Regions from separate parts of the Homo sapiens genome. Here regions 1, 3 and 4 are each linked to region 2. The links come from fine-mapping of genetic effects on plasma protein levels. A gene starts in region 2. Each other region holds a variant in brackets. All regions are shown on one strand. Distances are between the middles of the regions. Region 1 overlaps GOLGA1 (golgin A1). Region 2 holds the start of RABEPK (Rab9 effector protein with kelch motifs). Region 3 overlaps RABEPK (Rab9 effector protein with kelch motifs). Region 4 overlaps RABEPK (Rab9 effector protein with kelch motifs).

What was found. PIP is the posterior inclusion probability: the model's chance that the variant is causal. Protein levels are from antibody-based Olink assays in UK Biobank. Linkage for the fine-mapping came from a reference panel and not from the study's own genotypes, which makes the PIPs less certain.
Region 1: its variant is fine-mapped to the plasma level of the RABEPK protein (UK Biobank, PIP above 0.99).
Region 3: its variant is fine-mapped to the plasma level of the RABEPK protein (UK Biobank, PIP above 0.99). The variant lies in the coding sequence of RABEPK. If it changes the protein, the assay may bind it differently, which can mimic a change of level.
Region 4: its variant is fine-mapped to the plasma level of the RABEPK protein (UK Biobank, PIP 0.90). The variant lies in the coding sequence of RABEPK. If it changes the protein, the assay may bind it differently, which can mimic a change of level.

Annotation. Positions count from the first base shown.
Region 1 is chr9:124,883,402-124,890,838 of GRCh38, reverse strand. It overlaps GOLGA1 (golgin A1), which reads left to right. Exons shown (of 23, transcript NM_002077.4): 16 at 361-450; 17 at 1,303-1,405; 18 at 1,536-1,696; 19 at 2,443-2,586. It also overlaps the pseudogene RNU4-82P. Among named protein-coding and RNA genes, the nearest start is that of ARPC5L, 25 kb to the right of the region's middle. RefSeq lists a silencer at 6,575-6,716. The variant C/T (reference allele first, on the strand shown) is at 4,242.
Region 2 is chr9:125,197,243-125,204,679 of GRCh38, reverse strand. It overlaps RABEPK (Rab9 effector protein with kelch motifs), which reads right to left and starts at 4,138. Exons shown (of 8, transcript NM_005833.4): 1 at 3,774-4,138; 2 at 1,614-1,672. The coding sequence starts at 1,666. It overlaps LOC105376271 (a long non-coding RNA gene), which reads left to right and starts at 4,284. Exons shown (of 2, transcript NR_135145.1): 1 at 4,284-4,454; 2 at 5,025-5,147. RefSeq lists a silencer at 4,211-4,260.
Region 3 is chr9:125,216,743-125,224,179 of GRCh38, reverse strand. It overlaps RABEPK (Rab9 effector protein with kelch motifs), which reads right to left. Exons shown (of 8, transcript NM_005833.4): 5 at 3,480-3,641. Among named protein-coding and RNA genes, the nearest start is that of RABEPK, 20 kb to the right of the region's middle. The variant GC/C (reference allele first, on the strand shown) is at 3,607.
Region 4 is chr9:125,229,505-125,236,471 of GRCh38, reverse strand. RABEPK (Rab9 effector protein with kelch motifs) reads right to left here. Exons shown (of 8, transcript NM_005833.4): 7 at 3,727-3,876; 8 at 2,311-2,784. The coding sequence ends at 2,492. It overlaps HSPA5 (heat shock protein family A (Hsp70) member 5), which reads left to right. Exons shown (of 8, transcript NM_005347.5): 8 at 1-1,619. Among named protein-coding and RNA genes, the nearest start is that of HSPA5, 8.4 kb to the left of the region's middle. The variant A/C (reference allele first, on the strand shown) is at 2,756.

The DNA.
Region 1 (7,437 bases), 310 kb after region 2:
AGTCCCCCACTCCATTCACGTGGCCTGCGAGTCTGACTTCTTGTTCTTGGCTACTGTCCTTAGACCAGCTCTTCAGGATAGGCCCCTAGCCTTGGTGTGGGTCCTGGCGGGGGTGCTCGTGGGGCAATCGATCCTCAGTGGTGTGCCATTTCCAGAGAAGTCGGTGGGTTGCCTGCCAGGATAGCTCTGAGAGGGATACTGAGGGCATGGCAGGGAGGGGCCAGGCTGGGAGCCTGGGAAGTGGGGAGCATGTTGGTCTGGCTCTGCAAAGCCATGCCCTGTCTGCTGGGCTTCTTGCGTGGCATACAGCTAAAAAACTGTGAACTAAGTTTTGGGGCTCAGTGGTTTTCTGCATTGTAGGAAGAATGGAGCCAAAGAGAAATTGTGAGCGTGGCCATGGCTCAAGCCCTGGAGGAGGTGCGGAAGCAAAGGGAAGAGTTCCAGCAACAGGTGGGCCCTGTTTCACGCTGAGGGGCGATGTCCCCCTGCAGTCCCACAGGCAGCAGGCCCATCCTGCCGTGAGACTGTTGGAGAGGGCCTGTCTCTCCAGGGTAGGGTAGTAGACTCAGGACTCAGGGAATGCAGTCAGCTGCGTGGGCCCCTGTGCTCTCTAGGAAGCTGGGAGACAAATGTTATAAAGAAACTCTTACCCCATAGGATGCCCTTTTCTGATTTTTCAACTATAATTACCTGGAAAGTGGTCCATGTCCACGGGCCTAGTGGGCTCTAATTCTGTGAGGTGACCTATCATTGCCCACCTGCCCCAGAGGCCACGTAAGGTTGGGTTGAGTTTTTGCAGGAAGTATGGGAAAGCCTCCCTTGAAGGTAGACTTTGCATCTGACCCCAGAGCTTCTAGTTAAGTGGCTTTAGGCCTTTGGTAAGTCCTTAACAAATCTGAGTCTCCTCTGATGAGGACTCTAGCCTTCTACTTACACCTCTGGGAAACTATTCTGTAATGAGGCAACATATATCAAATGCGTGTCTAGTGCTGGGGATGTTGCAGGCACTCAGGAAATGGAAGTTATGACAGCTTGTTGGGCTGGGCAGAATGGCCACGTCTCTGGTTGACCCACTGTTGGCCAGGGGGCAGTGGGAGGCGACTGCCCCTGTGCAGGGCCCCTACCAAGGAGAATAGATTTGTGCATGTTCATAGGAGCAGAGCTTAGCTGGGGGTTTGCTCTGGGTCGTGGACTTCAGGGAGGGATTCGTGGTGTACCCTGGAGAGCGGGGAAGTGGAGATTTCTGTGGGAAGATGGAGTCACTGCTCACAACCTTCCCTCTTGTTGATTTTTCTCTCCAAGGCAGCTAACCTGACAGCCATAATAGACGAGAAGGAACAGAATCTGCGGGAAAAAACCGAAGTGCTTCTCCAGAAAGAGCAGGAGATTCTCCAGCTGGAGCGAGGTGAGGAGTCGGTCCCTGGCTGAGCCTTCTCTCCTTTTCAGGCCCAGCATCCTGCCTTGTGACGGCCTTGCCACCAAGCAGCATGGAGTCACTGGGCTCACAGTGCCCCCTCCCCTCCTCCCCGACCTAGGTCACAACTCTGCCCTGCTGCAGATACACCAGCTGCAGGCCGAGCTGGAGGCCCTGAGGACCCTCAAGGCGGAGGAGGCTGCAGTGGTCGCGGAGCAGGAGGACCTGCTGAGGCTGCGGGGCCCATTGCAGGCCGAAGCACTCTCAGTCAATGAGTCGCACGTAAGTCCCAGCTGCACCTGCATGGGTGCTACAGCAAGATGCAGGGCAGGTGCCGAGAGTGCCCCTAAGGAGGCAGCAGTGGGGACACATGGTGGACACGACGCTCCCCTGCATGTAGGGTCCTTTCTTTGAAGTAGGGCACTTGGCCAGGCGCAGTGGCTCACGCCTGTAATCCCAGCACTTTGGGAGGCCGAGGCGGGTGGATCACGAGTTCAGGAGATCGAGACCATCCTGGCTAACACGGTGAAACCCAGTCTCTACTAAAAATACAAAAAATTAGCTAGGCGTGGTGGCGAGTGCCTGTAGTCCCAGCTACTCGGGAGGCTGAGGCAGGAGAATGATGTGAACCCGGGAGGCGGAGCTTGGTGGAGCCGAGATTGCGCCACTGCACTCCAGCCTGGGTGACAGAGCAAGACTCCGTCTCAATAAATAAATAAATAGATAAATAAATAAAGTAGGGCACTCATATGGCTAGGAGGCCATGAGTCCTGAAGAGCCCATCACAGATGGCACCCCTGTCGGTAGGCAGGGGAGAGCAAGCCCCTTCATCCCAGCAAAGACTAGTCGTGTGATTAGTTGTGGGCATTGGGCATTGGATCTTCTCCAGGAATTGCTTCCTGGCCAGTTGCCTGTTGGAGCACAACGCCCATACCTAAGGGACGAGTCTAGCTCCCCTTCCCTGTGTACCTGTGGCTCAGCTTCACCTGACCTGTCCTGGCTCTCAATTTGCTGCTGCCACCTTGTAGGTGACCTCGAGGGCCATGCAGGACCCTGTGTTCCAGCTTCCAACTGCAGGAAGAACACCAAATGGTGAGGTTGGGGCCATGGATCTCACACAGCTACAGAAGGAGAAACAGGACTTGGAGCAGCAACTTCTGGAGAAAAATAAGGTGAGGATGCCTTTTGCATGGCTGTTTCTGTCTCCACCAGGTCCTCACCCTCAGGCCTAAAATGACCCAGTCCATCCTTGGAGGTTTTTGTGGTTTCCCCCGCACCTCCTGGCAACCATGACCCCTCTCACCCAAAGGCCTTCCTCCTGATCTTCCGTTCCTCCTGCACTGTCCTCCTCCACACCCTCCCCAGCCCTCTTCTCCCCACCCCCTGGAGAACTGGACAAGTGTCAGGCTTGGGCAGCTGCAAGCCTGCATGTTCCCTGCCAGCTCTGCTGTCCCCAGCCAGGCCATAGCGACAGTCCTCTTTCGTCTATACTTCCTTTCTACAGCTGTGGAAGTAAAGCACTGATAGCTGCCTTTAAGGGTTTGTTTGGGTGGGAGGAGGGGGTTATGAAATGAAGGTATTTGTGAACCGTCCTATAAACTTTATAAACTCTCTGGTATTTGGTAGAGGCTCAATAAATGTCATGGTCCCCACCCTTCACCCTCCAGCCTTTCCACCTATATAAATGCAGGATCTCATTTAATCCTGGTTCTTAAAGTGTCCTGTGAAGCTTAGTGTGCCAGCCGGCTATTGCTCTGGCCTGACATTCTGCCCCCAAATTGTGTGTGTGTTTGTGTGTGTGAGTGCACGTGTGTGTGTGTGTTTAGATCTTTTACAAGGGGGAAAGTGTTCATTATGTCTAATATAAAATACAGAAGCTTTGCAGCAGTGGCAGTATCGTAGCCAATGAGGTCTATCCGAGGCGCGATTATTGCTAATTGAAAAAAAAAATACACACAGGAAAGTGTACAAAACAAATGTGTGTCTCAGTGAATTAACAGAAAGCAGACCCATGTAACCACCCCGATGCGAATCAGGATATTGCCAGCATCCCAGAAGCCCAGCCCCCTGAGCCCCTCCCAGCCCTGTCAGTCACTCCGATCCCAGCCCTTCTGGCAATGACTGCCTTGCTTTTTTCCCTAGTGTCACCTCAGCTCGCATTGCTCAACCCCACAGTTTCGTTTTGCCTGTTTGCAAATTTCCCGTTTGTCCCCTAGGACCTCCGTCCCTTGAGCCTCTGGCCTTACCAGCTGTGCTGCCTTCCTGCCTCCTTGTTCAGCGTCGGGTCTGTGTCTGTCACGGGATCACTGCCTTCCCGACACCTGCGGTCCTCTGGCCTCTCTCCCTTTCCTCAGACTGTCCTAGCCAAGCTCTGGTTAAACTTGGGCTAAACCCAACTCTTCCCTGCTCCCTGCCTGCAGCCATGGAGGCAGACCTGGCTGGAGAGTGCCATCACCTGGGCATTCAGGTCCCCTCGAAGCTCAGGACCATGGTCCTGCGGGCAGCCCAGTGTTCCCCGCAACCCCACCTCATCCGTGGGCCTTCACGCCCCTCTGCCCCTAACCCCAACTTCATGTCTACCTTCTCTCCTCTCTTCACCTCAACCCTGCCTCACCCACCCTGGTGCTCCCACCTCCTGCTTCTCTGAGAAGGGACGTGCCACAGCCTCTCCTCATATCCTGTTCCCCCACCTCCCCAAGCACTACGCCAGCCGCCTCCCCCTTCTTGCCTAGGTCGTTTTTTCTTGGAATCGTCCCATCTACTGAGAGGTGCGCCGTTGTGCAGGCACCTTATGAAAGCCCTCGGCTTGCACCCCTTTGCCCTGCTG[C/T]TGCGTCTCTGCTCACCTGCCGTGCTGACATGTTAAAACTTCCTATATCTGCCATCTCCATTCCCACTCCTCTTCTCTCTCAACCTTTCCTCCACCACTCCACAGAAAAACACTCTTGTCAAGCTCATCAGTAACATCTGCACTGCTAAATCCAGAAGGCAGTTCCTAATTTTCCCTCTGATTGGCCTGTTGGCAGCCTTGGACAGGCGTCTCTTCCTCCTCCTGAAGCTCCCATCCATGGCCTGCTCCTTCTCCGTCTCCTCTGACAGGCCAGTCTCCTTCCCACTGCCACCCGCCGTGCACAAGGGCAGCCCTCACAGCTCTTCTCTGCACTGTGCGCCCTCCTCTGCGATCTCAGCCATGCCCTGCGCAGCTGACTCCCCTCCCTACCTCCCGCCCAGACAGCTCCACGGACACTAGCCTCACAAACCTGTCTCCACATGAGCTCTAAGGTGTCTGAAACTCAAAACATCGGAAAACACACTTCGGCTTCACTGTGTTCCCTGGCTGCCATGCCACCTTTCCCATCTCAGTAGACGGCAAAAGCCTTGGAGTTGTCCTATCTGCCTTGGTTCTTTCTCTACCAGCATCCAGGCTGTTAGCAGATTCCTTCAGCACCCCCTTCACACATTTCCCAGAATCCACCACTTCACATCGCTGCCACCTGCTTCAGGTTACCATTGTCTCTTCTCTGGAAGATGGTATCAGACTTCTAACTGGTTTCCCTGGCACTCTTGTCTTAGCCCTCTGATGAAAGCCTGTCTCTGTTGATCTCTTATGAAAGCCTGAGTCCTTGCAGAGGCCCGCAAAGCCCTGTGTGGTGTGGCCCCTCATTACCCCTGCCAGCTGAGCCCCTCCTGTCCTCGTCACTCCCTCTCAGCCACAGGGGCCTCACTCCCATCAAGTACCCTCCAACCTCAGGGCCTTGGCACTTGCTGAGCCTTCCGTTTGGAAGTGCCTTTCCCTGGTCATCCTCACTTTCTTTATGCCACCCTGACCAGCCTCACCACCAGAACCCCACCCTCCCTCACCATGCTGCCTCTTCTCCATGCCTCTTCATACCCTCTGATACACTGCGGATTTGATTATTGATTTCTTTTTTTTTTTTTTTTTGAGACAGAGTCTCCCCCTGTCACCCAGACTGGAGTGCAATGGCGTGATCTTGGCTCACTGCGACCTCTGCCTCCTCGGTGCAAGCGATTCTGTTGCCTCAACCTCCCGAGTAGCTGTGATTACAGGTGCCCACGATCACGCCTGGCTAATTTTTTTTTTTTTGAGATGGAGTCTCTGTCGCCAGGCTGGAGTGCAGTGGCGCGATCTCAGCTCACTGCAACCTCCGCCTCCCGGGTTCAAACAATTCTCCTCCTGCCTCAGCCTCCCAAGTAGCTGGGACTACAGGCGCGCTACCACGCCCAGCTAATTTTTGTATTTTTAGTAGAGATGGGGTTTCACCATGTTGGCCAGGATGGTCTCGATCTCTTGACCTCGTGATCTGCCCGCCTCGGCCTCCCAAAGTGCTGGGATTACAGGCGTGAGCCACTGTGCCTGGCTTTTTTTGTATTTTTAGTAGAGACGGGGTTTTGCCATGTTGGCCAGGCTGGTCTGGAACACCTGACCTTGTGATCCGCCTGCCTTGGCTCCCAAAGTGCTGGGATTACAGGTGTGAGCCACCACACCTGGCCTGTTTATTGATTCTTTTCCCCTCGAGGGTGAACTTTTGACTTTTTTGTTGCCGTTTCTCCAGCCCCTAGAACAGTGCAGGGACTCAGTAACTATTAGATGAATTACTGAGTGAGGAAAATCCAGGAAACCAAAATAACGTAAGATAAAGTAGCCAATGTACTTTTGGGGCAGTGTCCAGCCTCATGGTCAGCCAAGAGAATAGAAATCAAAGCCACAAGGTGCCATTTTACAAAATTGGGTGTGTTGGAGGTCACTTAAGATGCCTCACAGTGGAGAAGTTAGAAACTGTGGTCTTCTGACTCAGTCATTCTATCCCCAAGAGAAACAATGGGGATTCCTCGCTTGGGGAAACAAAGCTTATCCCAGCTTTGTTTAAAGTGGAAGCCCAGCCACGCAGTAAGACAAGGGCATCCCCGGGAGTTCCTGTCACATTAGACATTACAATTAGGAAAGCTGGAGGAGGCAGTGATGACTCTGATACATGAAAAATGTATTTACAATTCCAGCCACGCTGTGCAAGAATGGGGATGTGGACTGGGGGTACATGGAAGAATGCATTTTGATATATTACCATTCAGAGACTTTGAATAAATTTTTATTTAAAACCGGGCGTGGTGGCTCATGCCTGTAATTTCATCACTTTGGGAGGCCAAGGCGGGCAGATCACCTGAGGCCAGGAGTTCGAGACCAGCCTGGCCAACATGGTGAAATCCTGTCTCTACTAAAATGACAAAAATTAGCTGGGCGTGGTGGCACACACCTGTAATCCCAGCTACTCAGGAGACTGAGGTGGGAGAATTGCTTGAACCCAGGAGGCAGAGGTTGCAGAGAGCCGAGATCGTGCCACTGCACTCCAGCCTCAGGGACAGGGTAAGACTCCGTCTCAAAAAAAAAAAAATTTTTTTTCCCTATATTATGAAGTTTTTAGTTGAGAAAATGTCTCAGCCTGTCTAGTGAATAATGGAATGTGTATGGAATGTGTAATAAATGTAAGGCTCATAATACTATTTAAACATCAAAGAAAATTAGCCAGGCGTGGTGGCGCACAGCTGTAGTCCCAGCTACTCGGGAGGTTGAAGTGGGAGAATTGCTTGAGCCCAGGAGTTCAAAGACTGAATCCAGCCTGGGCAACATAGTGAGATGCTGTCTCTTAAAGAAAACAAAAAAGGCCGGGTGCGGTGGCTCATGCCTGTAATCCCAGCACTTTGGGAGGCCAAGGTGGGTGGACCACCTGAGGTCAGGAGTTCGAGACCAGCCTGGCCAACATGGTGAAACCCTGTCTCTACTAAAAATACAAAAATTAGCCGGGCGTGGTGGTGGGAACCAGTAATCCCAGCTACTCAGGAGGCTGAGGCAGGAGAATCACTTGAACCCAGAAGGCAGAGGTTACAGTGAGCTGAGATTATGTCACCTGCAATCCAGCCTAGGCAACAGAGCAAGACTCTGTCTGAAAAAAATAAAATTAGCTGGGTGTGGTGGCACACAACTGTAATCCCAGCTACTTGGGAGGCTG
Region 2 (7,437 bases):
ACAAGTCATGGGATTTGAGGTTGGAAATACAGGCAGAAACATTTTGCAGGGACCATTGGGCCAGTTTAAGAAGTCTAATTTGTTTGTTTGTTTGTTTGAGACGGAGTCTCCCTCTGTTGCGCCCAGGCTGGAGTGCAGTGGCACCATCTCGGCTTGCTGCAACCTCCACCTCCCAGGTTCAAGAATTGTCCTGCCTCAGCCTCCCGAGTGGCCAGGATTACAGGCATGCACCACCACTCCCGGTTAATTTTTGTATTTTTAGTAGAGACGGGGTTTTGCCATGTTGGCCAGACTGGTCTCAAACTCCTGGCTTCAAGTGATCCACCCACCTCAGCCTCCCAAAGTGCTAGGATTATAGGCATGAGCTATTGCGCCCGGTCAGGAGTCTGATTTTTCTTTTTTTTTGAGATGGAGTCTCGCTCTGTCGCCCAGGCTGGAGTGCCTCAGCCTCCAGAGTAGCTGGGACTACAGATGCCCGCCACCACGCCCGGCTAATTTTTTGTATTTTTAGTAGAGACAGGGTTTCACCATGTTAGCCAGAGTGGTCTCGATCTCCTGACCTCGTGATCCGCCCACCTCGGCCTCCCAAAGTGCTGGGATTACAGGCATGAGCCACCGTGCCCGGCCTTTTTTTTTTTTTTTTTTTTTGAAACGGATTCTTGCTCTGTGGCCCATGCTGGAGTACAGTGGCATGATCTCAGCTCACTGCAACCTCTGCCTCCCAGATTCAAGCAATTCTCCTGTCTTAGCCTCCCTAGTAGCTGGGACTACAGTTGCACAACACCATGCCAGCTAATTTTTGTATTTTTAGTAGAGATGGGGTTTCACCATATTGGTCAGGCTGGTCTCAAACTCCTGACCTCAGGAGATCCACCCGCCTTGGCCTCCCAAAGTGCTGGGATTACAGGCATGAGCCACCGTGCCCAGCCCAGGAGTCTGATTTTTATCCCAACACCAACAGGGAGGCACAAAAGGGTTTTAAACTAGGAAATGCCATGATTGGCTGTATTCTGGGTACAGAGCAAGACAGATGCATGGAAGCCAGTCTGGAGTCTCTCCTTCAAGGTCCTGTTGAAGAACTGCCACCTCTCTACAACCTTCTGTGGGCCCTGACTCAGAGCAGATCACATTTTATCACCATCACCTGCTTAGTCTGTAGTCCCCAGTACACAGAGACTATTTACAATTCTACCTCCAGCACCCACAGAGCAGCTGCCCCCATCAGGCCAATGTTAGTTGTTGAATAAAGGGTTGTTTGAACAAACAGCCAAGAAACAGTGAAGCCAGTTTAATCCAAATCTAATTTCCTAAAAATCTTAAAAATGAGTCAGAGCTCGGGGGAAGACACAGCATTGGAGCTGAGGATGCCAGATGGTCAGTGCCTTACTCTTTCTGGTAAATGGATTTTAATAAAATTAACATCTGCTCTGTGATAATTACTGCCCCCCTATCTTTCCTCTGAAGACTTTCTCAGACAGTTTGAGTCTAATTACCAGAAACTGCAGACAGTTTCATCTCTACCCCTTTTTGTTGATGATCAAATATGTAAATAAACTACTTATAAATGAAACAAAAACTCATGCTTTTCTGTGTCTGGATCCTTCCTTACAGACCATGTTGCTTTCCTGGGCTTGTCTCCAGGTTCCAAGACTGGCAGTTGCTTCATGGTGTCCTATGCATAAGAAAGAAAGGCACTTTTTAGACACTTATGATTATCATCTTAATCAATTCAACCTCCTTTTTAAACCTTTCCTGTTGAATGTACTAATTTCTAGGCCTGATTGATTTGAATAAGAATCACCAACTTTTCATCTTTATTTTTATTATTTATTTATTTATTTATTTATTTGAGATGGAGTTTAGCTCTCGTTGCCCAGGCTGGAGTGCAATGGCAAGATCTCAGCTCATGGCAACCTCTGCCTCCCAGGTTCAAACGATTCTCCTCCCTCAGCCTCCCGAGTAGCTTGGATTACAGGCATGTGCCACTACGCCCAGCTAATTTTTCTATTTTTAGTAGAGATGGAGTTTCACCATGTTGGTCAGGCTGGTCTCGAACTCCTGACCTCAGCTGATCCACCCGCCTCAGCCTCCCAAAGTGCTGGGATTACAGGTGTGAGCCACCGTGCCTGGCCTATGTATTTATCTTTATTATTATTTTTAGATAGAGTCTCACTCTGTTGCACAGGTTGGAGTGCAGTGGTGCAATCTCCACTCACTGCAACCTTCCCCTCCCAGGTTTAAATGATTCTCCTTTCTCAGCCTCCTGAGTAGCTGAGATTACAGGTGCCCACCCACGCCCAGCTCATTTTTCTAGCTTTTCTAGTAGAGACGGGGTTTTACCACACTGGCCAGGCTGGTCACTAACTCCTGACCTCAGGTGATTTGCCCGCCTCAGCCTCCCAAAGTGCTGGGATTACAGGCATGAGCCACCGTGCCTGGCTTTATTTTTTATTTTTATTTTTTCTGAGATGGAGTCTCACTCTGTCACCCAGGCTGGAGTGCAGTGGCAGGATCTCAGCTCACTGCAACCTCTGCCTCCCGGGTTCAAGCTATTCTCCTGCCTCAGCCTCCAGAGTAAGCTGGGACTACAGGCAAGTGCCACCACACCTGGCTAATTTTTTTTGTATTTTTCGTAGGGATGGGGTTTCACTATGTTCGCCAGGCTGGTCTTGAACTTGGCTCGCCTCGGCCTCCCAAAGTGCTGGGATTACAGGCGTGAGCCACTGAGCCCGGCCATTTATTTATTTTTTAATTAAAAATAGAAACGGGGCTGGGAGCAGTGGCTCACGCCTGTAATCCCAGCACTTTGGGAGGCCGAGGCAGGCGGATCATGAGGTCAGATCGATACCATCCTGGCCAACATGGTGAAACCCTGTCTTTACTAAAAATACAAAAAAAATTAGCTGGGCGTTGTGGCCCACGCCTGTAGTCCCAGCTACTCAGGAGGCTGAGGCGTGAGAATTGCTTGAACCCAAGAGGCGGAGGTTGCAGTGAGCCGAAATTGCGCCACTTGCACTCCAGCCTGGCGACAGAGCAAGACTCCTCCTCAAAAAAAGAAAAAAAAATAGAAATGGAGGTTTCGCTTTGTTGTCCAGGCTGGTCTCGAACTCCTAGCCTCAGGCAATTCTTCCACCTCAGCCTCCTAAAAAGCTGGGATTACAGGTGTGAGCCACTGCTCTCCGCTCAAAGGACAAAATATTTAAAGAAGCTGAGAAATACTGAGCTCTGGGATAAATCTTGGCCTCAACATAGCATAGAAAGTAAGGCCTTCTGCTGTTGAGCTTTTTTCCCGTGAACTCACCTCCACAATCTCTTGCATTATTGGTTTTTTTGCTGTTCTTGTAATATGGCAGGCCTTTTCATAATTTTGCAGCCTGTTCTGCTTCCCCTATTTGGAATGTCGCTTCCCTTCTGGGAAATTTGCAAACTCCTAGTTAACCTTCAAAGCCCAGTTCAAAAGTCCCTTCCCTGGTGAAACCTTCCCTGATTTGCCCTTTTCTCTTCCACCCACATCCAAGTTACTTCCTTCTTCCACCCACTGGGCTCTGAAGGTATTAGCCATCACCATTGCAGGAATCATTTGGAATGTTTATCTATTTAAGGCTTCTAGACTAGATTCTAGATTAAATTCCACTAGACTAAGTTCCTAGAGGGCTGGGCCTGTCAGATCCATTCCGAGAACCTACCAATGGACCTGGCATGGAGTAGAAGTGGGGGAGTGGCTAGTGAATGAAGAAAGAAAATAGATTGAGAGATGAATGGATAAATCTCACCTGCGGCCTAGGCCACTGACAGCTGTCCCCAAAGTCCAGAGCTCAGTTAGGCTGGCTTCACGTGGGCGGGACCTCCCGCAGCAGCCGCCGCTACCAGCCCAGCAAATCTCATCCCCACGTGGCAGTTCTAGGGGATAGGAGACGGGGTCGGGAAAGAACAGGCTGATTCGGTCAAAGTGGCCGGGACGGAGCCAGGGAAGGCCCTTCCCCGTTCTTTGCACCCGGCTTGGGCCCACTCCCCTAAAAGATTCAGACTCCCTGCCCGAGACCGTGATAGACCCGGTATCCGGGGACCCTCGCCCCTACCCTCCAGCCCCGGACTGCAATACCTGCGGCGACTTAGGCCAGTCGCGAGCCGTGACTCCACCCCGGAGGGGCGGGGCTTAGGTCCGGGCCCTCCTCCCAGGACCCGGAAGAGCGTCCGGGCCAACCGCTCCCTCTTCCCTGCTCCGCCCCGAGGGCCCGGCGCTGACTTCCTGGGCTGGCGGTGGAGGGGTCCCCCAGACCGGGAGTGGACGCCAGGCTCTGCATTTCTCGGGAACCAAGTGGGGTGGGCCTTCCCTGGGTCCCTCCCTCCCGGACGGGATAAATAAGCCGGGGCTACTTGGAAACGATTTGCGCAATGCCGGGTTCGGGCGTCCGTTTGGGGAACTCAGATGCCTGCGGCAGCTGATCTACTCTGTAAGGGGCTAACAGGGCTGGGCGCCACCACACTCCAGCTTGGGCAACAGCGCAAAAACTCCCTCTCAAAAAAATAAATAAATAAAAGGGGGGGAGGGTATAACAGTTACATTTCCAGTTACAACGATTGTTTTTTTTTTTTTTTTTTGAGACGGAGTCTCGCTCTGTCGCCCAGGCGGGACTGCGGACTGCAGTGGCGCAATCTCGGCTCACTGCAAGCTCCGCTTCCCGGGTTCACGCCATTCTCCTGCCTCAGCCTCCCGAGTAGCTGGGACTACAGGCGCCCGCCACCGCGCCCGGCTAATTTTTTTTGTATTTTTAGTAGAGACGGGGTTTCACCTTGTTAGCCAGGATGGTCTCGATCTCCTGACCTCATGATCCACCCGCCTCGGCCTCCCAAAGTGCTGGGATTACAGGCGTGAGCCACCGCGCCCGGCCACAACGATTGTTAACAGTTTCTAAAGGGGAGAGTTGAGCATGCAATCCTCCTGCGCAGTCTTCGGGCCAGCTCAAGATTTGGTGCTTTAAACAGCTGATTCATTCCATAATTGCCATTTGTAATTATGGCAGGTGCTATGCTGAGCCAGACACCACCACGCTTTGCCTCCAGGAGCAAGTCTTAACTAGAGAGAGATCAAAGAAAAAGACAACTAGGGACGACTGCCAAGAGTGCAATAAATATAAAGTTCAGCCAGGAGAGTATCTGTTCTGAAGTTACTTTCCTCCAGGCCTCAGGGTTGTCTGTTTGTAACCATGGAGCTAATAAGATTTCTATCATAGGCTGGGCGCGGTGGCTCACGCCTATAAGTCCAGCACTTTGGGAGGCCGAGGCGGGCGGATCACGAGGTCAGGAGTTCGAGACCAGCCTGGCCTACATGGTGAACGCCCCCGCCCCCCCCCCCAACTAAAAACACAAAAATTAGCTAGGCGTGGTGGTGGGCGCCTGTAATCCCTGCTACTCAGGAGGCTGAGGCAGGAAAATTGCTTGAATCTGGGAGGCGGAGGTTGCAGTGAGCCGAGATAGTGCCACTGCACTCCAGCCTGGGTGACAGAGCCAGACTCCGTCTCAAGAAAAAAAAAAAAAAAAGAGAGATGTATGTAGTAGTTGTGGTGGGGAATACATGACATAATGTAAATAAAAGTGCTCAGCACCCAGCAGCTGGCACAGAGTTCTCTGTCAAGGGTAAAGCTATTCCTGACTATAAATGAACAATGTCTCTAGACATATTCAGAATCTACATTATCTTTGTTTTAGTTCATAACCATAGGTTCTCTGTGTCTTTCCTGAAAATAGAGAGGTGGCTTGCTCTCTTATGTCTGTTTCAAAGAACTCCAGTCTCTGAAACTGTCGCTGTGTCCTAGAAAATAGAGAAAACAGCTCAGGTTAGAAACAGGAGCTCCTGGAGTATAGAGCTATGGTAGCTTAGTGGGAAGAGATCAAACATACTTGGGTTAAAATCCAAGCTCCAGGCTGGGTGTGGTGGCTCATGCCTGTAATCCCAGCACTATGGGAGGCCAAGGAGGGCAGATCACGAGGTCAGGAGTTCAAGACCAGCCTGGCCAACATAGTGAAACCCCATCTCTACTAAAAATACAAAAATTAGCCAGGCACGGTGATGCGCACCTATAGTCCCAGCTACTCGGGAGGCTGAGGCAGGAGAATTGCTTGAATCGGGAGGCAGAGGTTGTGGTGAGCCAAGATCATGCCACTGCACTCCAGCTTGGGCAACAGAGCAAGACTCTGTCTAAAAAAAAATCAGCCAGGCGTTTGCCTGTAATCCCAGCTACTCAGGAGGCTGAGGCAGAAGAATCACTTGAACCCAGGAGGTGGAGGTTGCAGTGAGCCGAGATCGTGCCACTGCACTCCAGCCGGGGCAACAGAGCAAGACTCTGTCAAAAAAAAAAAATCCAGGGTCCAGCACTAACCATCTAACTCTGACATTTGGCAAGTTACCCACTCTGAACCCTAGTTCCTCATCTATAGAATGATGATAGTATTACCTGCTGTGCAGACAGAACTGTTCAGAGGATGTGCTAATACAGGTGAAAGGCCAGGTTGGTGAAAGGAATATTTTAGCTACTTGAAACCATAACCAAAATTTATTGACAAAATGGAATTCAAGGTCTGCGGCTCTTTCAAACATATGGAGTCTTTGTGAGTTCCCACTTTAGTGGAAAAATCCCCATTGACTGTCTGCCAAAGAGAAGTTTAGGGATATTCAGTCATTCTGCTCTCCTTCAGGAAAGAAAACCAAGTCCAGGTTAGCTCTGCCATATGTCCATGTGCATCTCCACGTACATTTCTGCTCACAGCTGCAGAATGCTCTGATGTCCCCGGTGTTTTCTGGCTAGCTCTGTTTCAAGGTGCCATGCTGGAGTGGCACATCAACAAGAAAAATTGGAAGAGGTTTGTGGGCAAAATAGCAGCCAGTTTTCACTGCGGGACCTATTTATTTATTTATTTACAGACGGAGTCTCGATTTGTCGCCCAGGATGGAATGCAGTGGCGCCCTCAGTTCACTGCAACCTCCGCCTCCTGGGTTCAAGCAATTGTCCTGCCTCAGCCTCCCAAGTAGCTGGGATTATAGGCGTGGCCACCACGTATGGTTAATTTTTGTACTTTTAGTAGAGACGGCATTTCACCATGTTGGCCAGGCTGGTCTTGAACTCCTAGCCTCAGATGATCCACCTGCCTTGGCCACCCAAAGTGCTGGCATTACAGGCATGAGCCACCGTGCCTGCTGAACCTATGCTTTTAGACTAGAAATCACATTTGAGAATGTGGAATGCCTGAGATCTATTTTCTTTTTTTTTTTTTGAGACAGTCTTGCTCTGTCGCCCAAGCTGGGGGAGTGCAGTGGCATGATCTCGGCTCACTGCAACATCCGCCTCCCGGGTTCAAGCAATTCTCTGCATCATCCTCCCAAGTAGCTGGGATTACAGGTACCCGCCACCACACCCAGCTAATTTTTTTTTTGCATTT
Region 3 (7,437 bases), 20 kb before region 2:
CTGTTGCCCAGGCTGGAGTGCAGTGGTGCGATCTTGGCTCACTGCAACCTCTGCCTCCTCCAGGAGAAGCGATTCTCCTGCCTCAGCCTCCCGAGTAGCTGGGATTATAGGCACCTGCCGCCATGCCTGGATAATTTTTTGTATTTTCAGTTGAAACAGGGTTTCATCATGTTGTCAAGGCTAGTTTTGAACTCCTGACCTCAAGGGATCCACCTGCTTTGGTGTCCCAAAGTGGCCTCCCAAAGGATTACGGGCATGAGCCACTGCGCCCAGCCTGCAAAAACTCTTTGAAACAAAGGTCTGCCAAACAATTTGTCTTTGAATTACTGTTTATGGTATGCCTGCTGGTTGTTCAAGGAGTCCCCAGTGTCCCAAGGAATTTAATTTAAAATTACCTGAAATGGTTTCTGCATAAATATGTTCCTTATAGCATTTTTTTTTTTTTTTTTTTTTTAGAGTCAGGGTCTCGCTCTACTGCAAAGGCTGGAGTGCAGTGGTGCAATTATGGCTCACTACATCCTCAAACTCCTGGGCCCAAGCGGTCCTCCAGCCTCCTGAGCCGATGGGATTATAGGCATGAGTCAGCATACCTGGCTTGTTCATTACAGTATTGTTTATAATAGACAAAAATTGGAAATAGCCTAAGTGTCCATGAGCAGGTTTAATTATTAGTATAGCCATGAGGAAATATTACACACTTTTTAAAAAATTTATTTATTTTTTTGAGACAGAGCCTTGCTCTGTCACCCAGGCTAGAGTGCAGTGGCGTGATCTTAGCTCACTGCTACCTCCACCTCCCAGGTTCAAGGGATTCTCCTGCCTCAGCCTCCCTAGTAGCTGGGATTGCAGCAGAGGGTGGCAGGCAGGCACCTGCCACCACGTCCAGCTAATTTTTTGTATTTTTAGTAGAGACAGGGTTTCACCATGTTGCCCAGGATTACCTGACCTCAGGTAATCCACCCACCTCTGCCTCCTGGGTTCAAGCAATTCTGCTGCCTCAGCCTCCTGAGTAGCTGGGATTATAGGCGCCCGCCACCATTCCTGGCTGATTTTTGTATTTTTAGTAGAGACAGGGTTTCACCATCTTGGCCAGGCTGGTCTCGAACTCCTGACCTCATGATCCACCCGCCTCTGCCTCCCAAAGTGCTGGGATTACAGGCGTGAGCCACCGCGCCTGGCCTAAGCACTTATTAAAAATGATGGTGAAGGCCGGGTGGTGTGGCTCAATGCCTGTAATCCCAGCACTTTGAGGGACCAAAGCTGAAGGATCACTTGAGGCTAGGAGTTTGAGACCAGCCTTGGCAATGCAGTGAGACCCTGACTCTAATATTTATATAATAATCATCATTTCAAAATGCTGGTGAAGACTTTCTGATTGCATGGAACAATGCTTAAGTGAAAAATATAGGATGCAAATGTAACATATAGAATTATCTCTGTCCTTTTTTTTTTTTTTTTTTTTTTTTGATACAGAGTCTTGCTCCCTCACCCAGGCTGGAGTGCAGTGGCAAGATCTCGGCTCATTGCAACCTCCGCCTCCGGGGTTCAAGTGATTCTCATGCCTCAGCCTCCCAAGTAGCTGGGATTACAGGTGTGCGTCACCACGCCCAGTTAATTTTTTGTATTTTTAGTAGCAACGAGGTTTCACTATGTTGGTCAGGCTGCTCTTGAACTCCTGACCTCAAGTAATCTGCCCTCCTCAGCCTCCCAAAGTCCTGGCATTACAGGCGTGAGCCACCACATCTGGTTTGAATTATCTCTGTTCTTAAAAAAAAAAGATTGATAATACACTGAGATGTTAACAGTAATTTAATTTTGGGGTGATAGTACATACACATGTACACACACACACACATATACACATACATATGTTTTTTTTCTTGTTCCTTATAGTTTTATATATTCAAAACCAATATTATTTAAACTTTTAAAACTGCTTTAAAAGAATCACAAAGCCCATTCTTTCTGGAAAGAGAAAAGTCACACTGTGATGTGTCTTTTTTTTTTTTTTTCCCAAATACTCTGGCTTGGGAATGTGCTATCTCTTAATTTTCCCAATTTTACTTTGCAAGGTAAAAATTTTGGCTGAGTGTGGTGGCAGAGGTGGGCAGGCAGAGGCAGGCAGATTGCTTGAGCTCATGAGTTTGAGACCAGCCTGGGCAACATGGCAAAACTGCATCTCTACAATAAAAATACAAAAATCTGGCCGGGTGCAGTGGCTCAAGCCTGTAATCCCAGCACTTTGGGAGGCTGAAGTGGGCAGATTACCTGAGGTCAGGCTTCAAGACCAGCCTGGCCAACATGGTGAAACCCTGTCTCTACTAAAAACGCAAAAAATTAGATGGACATGTTGGTGCATGCTGGTAATCCCAGCTAGTTGGGAGGCCGAGGCAGGAGAATCGCTTGAACCCGGGAGGCGGAGGTTGCAGTGAGCCGAGATCGGGCAACTGCACTCCAGCCTGGGCAACAGAGCGAGACTCCATCTCAAAAAAAAAAAAAGAAAAAGAAAAAAAATCACCCAGGCATGTACCTGAGGCGGGGAAAGGAAAGGCTGAAGGGGAATCTTTTACTTCTGTTTGTTTTTTGTCTTTCTTATTCTTTCTTTTACTTTTTTACTTTATAAATTGTATGGTTTAAACTTTTTAACTTGATCATTATACCTTTTTATTTTTTTATTTAGTTTTTGAGAGAGTCTCGCTCTGTTGCCAAGGCTGGAGTGCAATGGCACGATCTTGGTTCATTGCCACCTCCGCCTCCCGGGTTCAAGTGATTCTCCTGCCTCAGCCTCCCGAGTAGCTGGGATTACAGGCACCCACCGCTGCACCCGGCCAATTTTTGTATTTTTAGTAGAGATGGGGTTTTGCCATGATGGCCAGGCTGGTTTCAAACTCCTGACCTCAGGTGATCCTCCCACCTGGGCGTCACAAAGTGCTGGGATCACAGACGTGAGCCACCGTTCCCGGCCTACCTTTTTAGTTTTATTTATTTATTTATTTATTTATTTATTTATTTATTTATTTGAGATGGAGTATTGCTCTGTTGCCCAGGCTGAGTGCAGTGGCCCAATCTTGGCTCACTGAAACTTCCTCCTCCTGGGTTTAAGCGATTCTCCTGCCTCAGCCTCCTGAGTAACTGGGATTACAGGTGCATACCATCATGCCCGGATAATTTTTGTGTTTTTAGTAGAGAAAAGGTATGTTGGCCAGGCTGTTCTCGAACTCCTGACCTTAAGCGGTCCACCTGCCTCAGCCTTCCAAAGCTCTGGGATTACAGGTGTGAGCCACCATGCCAGGCCTCACTATCCCTTTTTAAATGCCAATTTTGCTGTGGGAAAAAGATATCAGCTAAGAGATATAACAAAGAAGTCTAGAAGTGAGACACTTAGTCAGGCTTTCCTTTTCTAACTTCTGCTTCCTATATTAGGTAATGTGTAAACTGGGATGGCCCTGACCAGCCCCAAGGTGCCCACCAGTCCATACTTGCGTCAAACACATGCAGCTTCGTGTCCTGCACGGGCTGGGCACCTCTCTCTCCGCCCCCAAAGACATATAGCTGGTTTCCAATGGCTGCCGATGATGTGTGGAATGTTCTTGGGGATGGTGGGGG[GC/C]TGGTCACTTCTGGCGTGGTCCACGTCCTGGTTTCTGGGCCAGAGAGAATGCAGGCACTTAAAATATCCAGGTAGAGGGGCTTCTGACCTTGACTCTGGGGCTGAGTGAAGTCAGTTTCCAAACTCCAATCCCCAGGGGGGCCAGCATAGTTTTGGGCAGGGATCTCATACTCACAAACATCAAGGAAGAATGAAGATGATACTTAGGATTTGCCAAGACAGTCCAAAATCCCCAAGATTTAAAAGCTGTAAGCACAAGAATGGAGTCAGGCTGGGTGCAGTGTGGCTCATGCCTGTAATCCCAGCACTTTGGGAGGCCAAGGCGGGCGGATCACTTGAGGTCAGGAGTTCGAAACCAGCCTGGCCAACATGGGGTAAAACCCCATCTCTACTAAAAATCTGAAAAATTAGCCGGGTATGGTGGTGGGGACCTGTAATCCCAGCTCCTCAGGAGGTTGAGGCAGGAGAATCGCTTGAACCCAGGAGGTGAAGGTTGCAGTGAGCTGAGATTGCACCACTGCACTCCAGCCTGGGTGACAGAGCAAGGCTCCATATTAAAAAAAAAGAAGAAAAAAAAGAGGTCAATTTGTTTTGGAGGCCTTCAAATATCCTCTCTGAACCCTCTTCTACTTTGCTCACTATCGCTCCCCCTAACATCTGCTAACATTCATTCCCACTAGATGCCAGAGTCCAGGTGTGCCAGATTTCCCAGAAAATGTGGCCAATAAAAGAAAGTAGGCAGGCCATGTGCAGCAGCTAACACCTGTAACCTCAGCAGTTTGGGAAATCGAGGTAGGAGGATTGCTTGAGCCCAGGAGTTTGTGACCAGACTGGGAAACAAAGCAATATCCTGTCTCTACAAAAAATCAGCCAGGGGTGCAGTGGCTCACGCTTGTAATCCCAGCACTTTGGGAGACCAAGGTGGGTGGATCACTTGAGGGTAGGAGTTCTAGACCAGCCTGGCCAACATGGTGAAATCCCATCTCTACTAAAAATAAATAAATAAATAAATAAAGCCAGGTGTCGTGGTGGGGACCTATAATCCCAGCTACTCAGGAGGCTGAGACAGGAGAATCACTTGAACCAGGAGGCGGAGGATGCAGTGAGCTGAGATCATGCCACTGCACTCCAGCCTGGTTGACAAAGCGAGACTTCATCTTAAAAAATAATAATAATAAAATAAAATAAATTAAAAATTAAAAAAAATTAGGCTGAGCACAGTGGCTGTAAGGCCTGTAACCCTAGCACTTTGGGAAGCCAAGGCAGGAGGATTGCTTGAGCCCAGGAGTTTGAGGCTGCAATGAACTATGATCGTGCCATTGCACTCTAGCCTGGGTAAAAGAGTAAGACCATATCTTGAAAAAAAAAAAAAAGAAAGAAAGAAATGAAAAAAAAAAAAAGACAATACTATTACATTTCAGTAGCAGTAATAACAGTCCCTACTAAACAGTAAATGCTAAACAAATATTAATTTCCGCATTTTACAGGTAAGAGAATTGAAGTAGGGATGGATTAAGTAACTTTTTAAAAGAGACATGGCTAGCCAGGCTCGGTGGCTCATGCCTGTAATCCCAACACTTTAGCAGGCTGGGGCAGGTGGATTGCTTGAGCCCAGGAGTTTGAGACCAGCCTGGGCAACATGGCAAAACCCTGTCTCTACAAAAAAATACAAAAAAAAATTAGTCGGGTGTGGTGGCGTATGCCTATAGTCCCAGCTACCTGAGAAGCTTAGGTGGGAGGATATACTGAGCCTGCAGCGGTTGAGGTTGCAGTGAGTCAAGATCACACCACTGCAACTCCAGCCTGGGTTACAGAATAAGGCAAAGAAAGAGAGAGAGAAAGAGAGAGAGAGAGAGACAGATAAAGTGACATGCCTAAGAAATGGCTGAGTTGGAATTTAAACTCTTTCAGTAACACCAAGATCTTTCTAATTCCCACTCCTCTGACTGGAGAATAAAATTTCACCACCTAGATAGATGTATAGAAGCTTATTTCTTTTAAGGATGAACCTGGGTTTTATAGAAGCAGATGCATTAATTGAGCACCCTCAATGGGCAGCATCATTGCCCTGGGCACTGCCATCCCTGGTGTCTTCACTCAAGCTTGGGAAGTGAGCGGAAGTATCTCTACTTTTAGATGAGGAAACTGAAGCTCTGCACATTTAAATCCTTTCCTGCAGGTTATAGCATATGTGCGTAGCAGAGCAGGAGTTTGAACTCAGTTCTTTTTTTTTTTTTTTTTTTTTTTTTTTGAGACGGAGTCTCGCTGTGGCTCCCAGCCCAGAGTGCAGTGGCGCGATCTCGGCTCACTTTGCAAGCTCCGCCTCCCGGGTTCACGCCATTCTCCTGCTTCAGCCTCCCGAGCAGCTGGGACTACAGGCATCCGCCACCATGCCCGGCTAATTTTTTGTATTTTTTTTTTTTTTAGTAGAGACGGAGTTTCACCGTGTTAGCCAGGATGGTCTCGAGCTCCTGACCTCCTGATCTGCCCGCCTCGGCCTCCCAAAGTGCTGAGATTACAGGCGTGAGCTACCGCGCCGGGCCTGAACTCAGTTCTATCAGAGTCCCACACTTGCTCTACCATAACACACCAAGAAATTCTGTCTTTTGTAAAAGGTCTACATCCAATATATAAAATGCTACAGGAAACATCTGTAATATGTGTGGGACTCAAATGGGGACCTGGAGACTGAAAAAGTCTCAGCCTATATCCAAAGCAAAATGTAGCTGTCTCTATAGTTACAGATGTTGGAGAGCTTTTGGATCTTAGAGGGAGCTAGAAAGGTATACATGTCACCTCCAGGCCCAGAAGACCCTAGGGCTGTATTCCTGCCAACTCAAACACCAGCACAAAGAATCACAAAGGAGTCCTGAGCATTTGAGGGACTTGCCTTGGTAACAAATGCAACTAAGTACATATTTCATATTTCTTGGGCATGATGTCAAATTATATTTTCTAGGAGAGAAAAGGGATATGATAGAAAATCACCCTCTTTAATATAAAAATTAGCTGGGCATGGTGGCATGTGCCTGTAATCCCAGCTACTCGAGAGGCTGAGGCTGGAGAATCATTTGAACCCAAGAGGTGGAGGATGCAGTGAGCTGAGATTGCGCCACTGCACTCCAGCCTTGGCAACACAGTGAGACACTGTCTCAAAAATAAAAATAAATAAATAAATAAATAAAATAAAATCACCCTCTTTGACAGCTTTCCAAATTCTCACTTTATTTTATTTCAATGGATACCATTGTTGAAAATCAAAAGGCCAGGGTTCCAGAACTGATTTCCCTTTGCCAAACCTTAACTACATCAACTACCACAACAATTACTGAGCATTAATTATGTGCCAGATACTGAGTTTATTTAAATCCTTGACAAATTAACAAGGTAGAAACTATTACTATCCAATGTGACAGAAAACAGAGGCAGAGAGAGGTTAAATCACTAGTCCAAGGTCATAGTTAGTGCATAGCAAAACAGAGACCCTCATCTGTGCCCTTAAGCACCATATTATACTGCTAGTCCTCCAAGCAAATTGGCTTCACAATTAGCCAAATGGTCTGCCAAGTGTCTACTCTATCACTTTCTTCTTTTTTTTTTTTTTTTGAGACGGTGTCTCACTCTGTCACCCAGGCTGGAGTGCAGTGGCGCGATCTCGGCTCACTGCAACCTCCACCTCCCAGGTTCAAGCGATTCTCCTGCCTCAGCCTCCCAAGTAGCTGGGACCACAGGCACCTGCCACCAAGCCCAGCTAATTTTTTCTTTTGTATTTTTAGTAGAGACGGGCTTTCAGTATGTTGGCCAGGCTGGTCTGGAACTCCTGACCTTTT
Region 4 (6,967 bases), 32 kb before region 2:
AACTGCTATAGCCTAAGCGGCTGTTTACTGCTTTTCATTAGCAGTTGCTCACATGTCTTTGGGTGGGGGGGAGAAGAAGAATTGGCCATCTTAAAAAGCGGGTAAAAAACCTGGGTTAGGGTGTGTGTTCACCTTCAAAATGTTCTATTTAACAACTGGGTCATGTGCATCTGGTGTAGGAAGTTTTTTCTACCATAAGTGACACCAATAAATGTTTGTTATTTACACTGGTCTAATGTTTGTGAGAAGCTTCTAATTAGATCAATTACTTATTTTAGGAAATTTAAGACTAGATACTCGTGTGTGGGGTGAGGGGAGGGAGTATTTGGTATGTTGGGATAAGGAAACACTTCTATTTAATGCTTCCAGGGATTTTTTTTTTTTTTTTTAACCCTCCTGGGCCCAAGTGATCCTTCCACCTCAGTCTCCCAGCTAATTGAGACCACAGGCTTGTTACCACCATGCTCGGCTTTTGCATTAATCTAAGAAAAGGGGAGAGAAGTTAATCCACATCTTTACTCAGGCAAGGGGCATTTCACAGTGCCCAAGAGTGGGGTTTTCTTGAACATACTTGGTTTCCTATTTCCCCTTATCTTTCTAAAACTGCCTTTCTGGTGGCTTTTTTTAAAATTATTACTAATGATGCTTTTATAGCTGCTTGGATTCTCTGAGAAATGATGGGGAGTGAGTGATCACTGGTATTAACTTTATACACTTGGATTTCATTTGTAACTTTAGGATGTAAAGGTATATTGTGAACCCTAGCTGTGTCAGAATCTCCATCCCTGAAATTTCTCATTAGTGGTACTGGGGTGGGATCTTGGATGGTGACATTGAAACTACACTAAATCCCCTCACTATGAATGGGTTGTTAAAGGCAATGGTTTGTGTCAAAACTGGTTTAGGATTACTTAGATTGTGTTCCTGAAGAAAAGAGTCCAGGTAAATGGTATGATCAATAAAGGACAGGCTGGTGCTAACATAAAATCCAATATTGTAATCCTAGCACTTTGGGAGGCCAAGGCGGGTGGATCACAAGGTCAAGAGATAGAGACCATCTTTGCCAACATGGTGAAACTCCATCTCTACTGAAAATACAAAAATTAGCTGGGCGTGGTAGTGCAAGCTGAAGGCTGAGGCAGGAGAATCACTCGAACCCGGGAGGCAGAGGTTGCAGTGAGCCGAGATCACACCACTGTACTCCAGCCCGGCACTCCAGCCTGGCGACAAGAGTGAGACTCCACCTCAAAAAAAAAAAAAAGAATCCAATACTGCCCAAGGATAGGTATTTTATAGATGGGCAACTGGCTGAAAGGTTAATTCTCTAGGGCTAGTAGAACTGGATCCCAACACCAAACTCTTAATTAGACCTAGGCCTCAGCTGCACTGCCCGAAAAGCATTTGGGCAGACCCTGAGCAGAATACTGGTCTCAGGCCAAGCCCAATACAGCCATTAAAGATGACCTACAGTGCTGTGTACCCTGGGGCAATAGGGTTAAATGGTAGTTAGCAACTAGGGCTAGTCTTCCCTTACCTCAAAGGCTCTCACTACCGTGGACCACCTAGTCTGTAACTCTTTCTGAGGAGCTGTTACTGAATATTAAAAAGATAGACTTCAACTATGTGTCTGATGTCTATAGTTTGTTGTTTACCAATTATAATTCTGCAACTTCTTTTTTAACCCTAACCATATTGCAACTTTGTGATTAGCATTTAATACACAAATCACACCTACCTAGGTTTGTATTGTTGGCAAAACCTTTTATATATATATATATGTATACATATATATGTGTTTATGTATACATATATAAATACATGTATATATAAATATGTATACATATATATGTATACATATAAATATACTATATATGTATACATATATATGTGTGTATATATGTATATATATATATATTTTTTTTTTTTTTGAGACAGAGTTTCGTTCTTGTCACCCAGGCTGGAGTGCAATGGTGTGATCTCAGCTCACCGCAACCTCCGCCTCCCGGGTTCAAGCGATTCTCCTGTCTCAGCCTCCTGAGTATCTGGGATTACAGGCATGGGCCAGCACACCCGGCTAATTTTGTGTTTTTAGTAGAGACGGAGTTTCTTCATGGTAGTAAGGCTGGTTTTGAACTCCCGACCTCAGGTGATCCACCTCCTCAGCCTCCCAAAGTGTTGGGATTACAGGCGTGAGCCACCAAGCCTGGCCCAAAGCCTTTTATGTTAATGCAGTGGAGGTTTTTGCATTGGGCAAAACTTATCTATCTACCACAGTTTGCAAACCAGTCACTGAAAGTCATTCCCAAGAGCTCTGAGAGGCAATATAGCAAGGTTTAGTGCACATAAGAATTATTTGCATTAGTTTCTTCACCTACCAAAGTAGGAGAAAAACAGATATATAATGCAGAAGATATTTTGGAGGTATAAAACAGCTAATGTTTTACTTAACTATTCTGAAAGTAACTGACAGGTAATAAAAATGTGGGTTTTATTAGTCCACTACAGTCACAATACAATCGTCATAGATTTCCCCTTCTGTATTCATCCCACCAAACACCAAACAGAGCAGTGTAGCAGTCTGGCTTTCCTCATGTGAGTCACCACTGTGGCTCATTACTTTGTCAGCTGAATCCTCTTTCTCAGCTTCATGGTTCAGAGTGAGAGAGTTGGAATCTTCTTTCTCAGAAGCACACGTCACTGGCCATGGAATGATACACATGGAATGGTCCAATCGTCCAGGGGGTAGAAGAGTATC[A/C]AATTTAAGCAAGGTCCAATGCTGCTCTTCTATGTTGGGGAGGGAAAAGGCTTCATGTTAAGAAATTTCCAGATAGGCCGGGCACGGTGGCTCACGCCTGTAATCCCAGCACTTTGGGAGGCCGAAGCGGGTGGATCACGAGGTCAGGAGATGGAGACCATCCTGGCTAACACGGTGAAACCCCGTCTCTACCAAAAATACAAAAAAAAAATTAGCTGGGCATGGTGGCGGGCACCTGTAGTCCCAGCTACTCGGGAGGCTGAGGCAGGAGAATGGCGTGAACCCAGGAGGTGGAACTTGCAGTGAGCCAAGATCACGTCACCGCACTACAGCCTGGGCGACAGAGTGAGACTCCATCTCAGACAAAAAAAAAAAAAAAAAAAAAAACAATTTCCAGATAGTGAAAGCCAAAATCTGAATAAAATTTAAAAAGTAATGAAATTTCTAGAAATGCTCAGTGATTTACTGTAGCAGCCGAGTCCTAACAAACAGGAGTAAAAGGAAAAAAACCTTATGGCAGCATTGCTGCTTTCCTGATGTCATCCCCTACAGAGTTTTCATTCTTTTGGATTTAGATATAGAGGAACCAAATTGGAAGCACTGCATCACTTTTTTCTTTCTTTCTTTTTTTTTTTTTTTTGAGACAGAGTCTCGCTCTGTCACCAGGCTGGAGTGCAGTGGTGTGATCTCAGCTCACTGCAACCTCTCTGCCTCCTGGGTTCAAGCAATTCCCCTGCCTCAGCCTCCCGAGTAGCTGGGACTACAGGCGCCCGCCACCACGCCTGGCTAATTTTTTGTATTTTAGTAGAGATGGGGTTTCACCATGTTGGTCAGGATGGTCTCGATCTCCTGACCTCGTGATCTGCCTGCCTCGGCCTCCCAAAGTGCTGGGATTACAGGCGTGAGCCACCGCATCACGTTTCAAAGAATGTTTAGATTTGTTTAAAGATCCCCCATGGACACCTGCTCACCTGTGTGATACTGGTACATTGTGTCCAGTGCTCCTGCAGGAGTCATTCCACCAAAGATGTACACATGTTTTCCCATGGCCACAGCTGAGTGGGCAGCACAGCCTGCTGGAGCAGCCCCAGTGGGATTTAGCTTCTGCCATTTCATGTCACCTGCCAAGAGAAAGAAAGAGCTTTGGCGCAGCATGGGCTAAGATGTGCTTTCAAACTTATCTATCTACTGTAGTTTGCACACCAATCACTGAAAGTCATTCACCAAGAGCTCTGAGAGGTTTAGTGCACATAAGAATTATTTGGGGAACTCTGACATTATGATTGGGTAGTCCAGGGAGGAAGGCAGGGAGGGGCTCAGTGATTCCCAGAATCTCAGGCGATTCTGATGTAGGCAGTCTTTGGATCACACAGAAATGTGATACAACCTTTATAATAACAGTCACCTTCAACCATTCACTATTAACTGCCTCGAATTAGCTCAGTTTCTCTCTCTCTCTCTCTCTGTCTCTGTGTGTGTGTGTGTGTGTGTGTGTGTGTACTTTAAATACAGTTCCTGGGCCGGGCACGGTGGCTCACGCCTGTAATCCCAGCACTTTGGGAGGCCGAGGCGGGCGGATCACCTGAGGTCGGGAGTTCGAGACCAGCCTGACCAACATGGAGAAACCCCGTCTCTACTAAAAATACAAAATTAGCCAGGCATGGTGGTGCATGCCTGTAATCCCAGCTACTCAGGAGGCTGAGGCATGAGAATCGCTTGAACCTGGGAGGCGGAGGTTGCGCTGAGCTGAGATCACACCATTGCACTCCAGCCTGGGCAACAAGAGCGAAGCTCCGTCTCAAAAAAAAAAAAAAAAAAAAAATACAGTTCCTTAGCGATTTTGTAAGTGCTGGCTAAACAACAAATTTTGCTCACTTAATTTTCATAACAGCCCTATGAAATTTCTATTACTTCTGCCTATCCCCTTTCTTATTCTTTTTTTTTCCGCTCTGTTGCCCAGCCTGGAGTGCAGTGGCTTGATCTTGACTCCCAGGTTCAAGCAATTCTCTGCCTCAGCCTCCCGAGTAGCTGGGATTACAGGCACCTGCCACCGGGTCTGGCTAATTTTTTGTATTTTTAGTAGAGACGGTGTTTCACCATCTTGGCCAGGCTGGTCTTGAACTCCTGACCTCGTGATCCACCCACCTCGGCCTCCCAGAGTGCTGGGATTACAGGCGGGAGCCATGGCCTGGTGCCTGGCCTCCCCTTTCTTCTTACAAATGAGCAAACAAGAATAGAGAAGGAAAGAGACTTGTCCGAGACCCTATAGCTTGTAAGTGGCACAGCAAGACTGCACTTAGGTGTGGCTCCAAAGCCTGTGTCTCCAAAATCTCTACACGATAATGTGCTGCCTTAGCGCCTACTTCCCACCTATTTTTGCAGGGAAACTTGCATCTTTTCAAACAAGCATTTTTTTTTCTTTTGAGACAGAGTCTCACTCTGTTACCCAGGCTGGAGTGCAGTGGCGCGATCTCAGCTCACTGCAACCTCCACCTCCCGGATTCAAGCGATGCTCCTGCCTCAGCCTCCAGAGTAGCTGGCACGTGCCGCCACACCCGGCTAATTTTTGCATTTTTAGTAGAGACAGGGTTTCACCATGTTGGCCAGGCTAGTCTCAAACTCCTGACCTCAGGTGATCCGTCCACCTCGGCCTCCCAAAGTGCTGGGATTACAGGGGTGAGCCACTGCTCCCAGCCAAAACAAGCATTTAAATAAGGCAAGCTATCACTGGATTTTAGATTTAGAGAACTACTTGGGTAGGCAGGAAAAATAGTCAACAAGTAGTTCCTAACACCAGAAAAAGGCTCTTTTTAAAAATAAGCATTAAGACCCCATCTGACTGCCCGCAAGGAATGGTTTTGTGTAAATAGTTTCCATCTGTCGGCCGGGCGCAGTGGCTCACACCTGTAATCCCAGCACTTTGGGAGGCCGAGGTGGGCGGATCACAAGGTCAGGAGATTGAGACCATCCTGGCTAACACGGTGAAACCCTGTCTCTACTAAAAATACAAAAAATTAGCCGGGCGTGGTGGTGGACACCTGTAGTCCCAACTACTCAGGAGGCTGAGGCAGGAGAATGGCATGAACCCGGGAGGCAGAGCTTGCAGTGAGCCAAGATTGCACCACTGCACTCCAGCCTGGGCAACAGAGCGAGACTCCATCTCAAAAAAAAAAAAAAATAGTTTCCATCTGTCAATGCAAGGCAGGGGCCCAGCATCTCAGAGTAAGAAGGGAGAATCACCCGGTGTGGCCAAAATTCTAGCCAATGCAAGAATACAAAGCCAGTGTCCCCTGGCCTCAGCTGTCATGGAGCCAGATAATTCAGGGCTTGGGAAGTCAGCCCGATACACTACACAGGACTTCCCATGCCTTCTGCCCATTGTTCCAGTTCTTGTAGTCTGGAGCAATGCAGAACATGTTCATTTCTTCATCCCTCCACTCAATAACAGGTATGAGCCGGGAGCAGTGGTTCACGCCTATAATCCCAGCACTTTGAGAGGCCAAGGCGGGTGGATCCCTTGAGTCCTGGAGTTGGAGACCAGCCTGGGCAACATGGTGAAACCTCATCTCTACAGAAAATAAAAAAATTATCTGGGTGTTGTAGCACGTGCCTGTTGTCCCAGCTACCCGGGAGGCTGAGGCAGGAGAATCACTTGACCTGAGAGGCAGAGGCTGCCATGAGCTAAGATCGCATCAGTGCATTCCAGCCTGGGCAACCAAGTGAGACACTATCTCAAAAAAAAGAAAGTACCTGTCACCCACTATCTGCCAGACACTGTGCTAAGTGCTAGAAATGTACTGGAGAACAAAATAGACAAGTTCCCTACCATAATGGACCTCACAGCTTGAAGGAATTGCCCAGAATGAGTCCAGGGTCTCTCCACAGCATATCAGCCCTTCAGATACTTAAAGGATATTTCTCATGTTCTCTCTAACCTTCCTCTTCCCACTGTTTTCAACCATTTAACATGAAAAGCATGAAACTCTAGTCATCTACATCCACATTATCCAGATCCTTCATGGGTTAATGGCTAACACCAGAAAGAAATCCAGTAGGCCAACACAAAGCATAATGGGTTGTAATGAAAGGAGAGCACTGTTGGAAGGTTAAGAGACAATAAATGGCTGGGTCCATAGTAAGCACTCAGGAGATTATTTAGTGCTATGATTTTTTATTATTAGTATTCTGTCCAGAGGTAACAGAATCTGATGA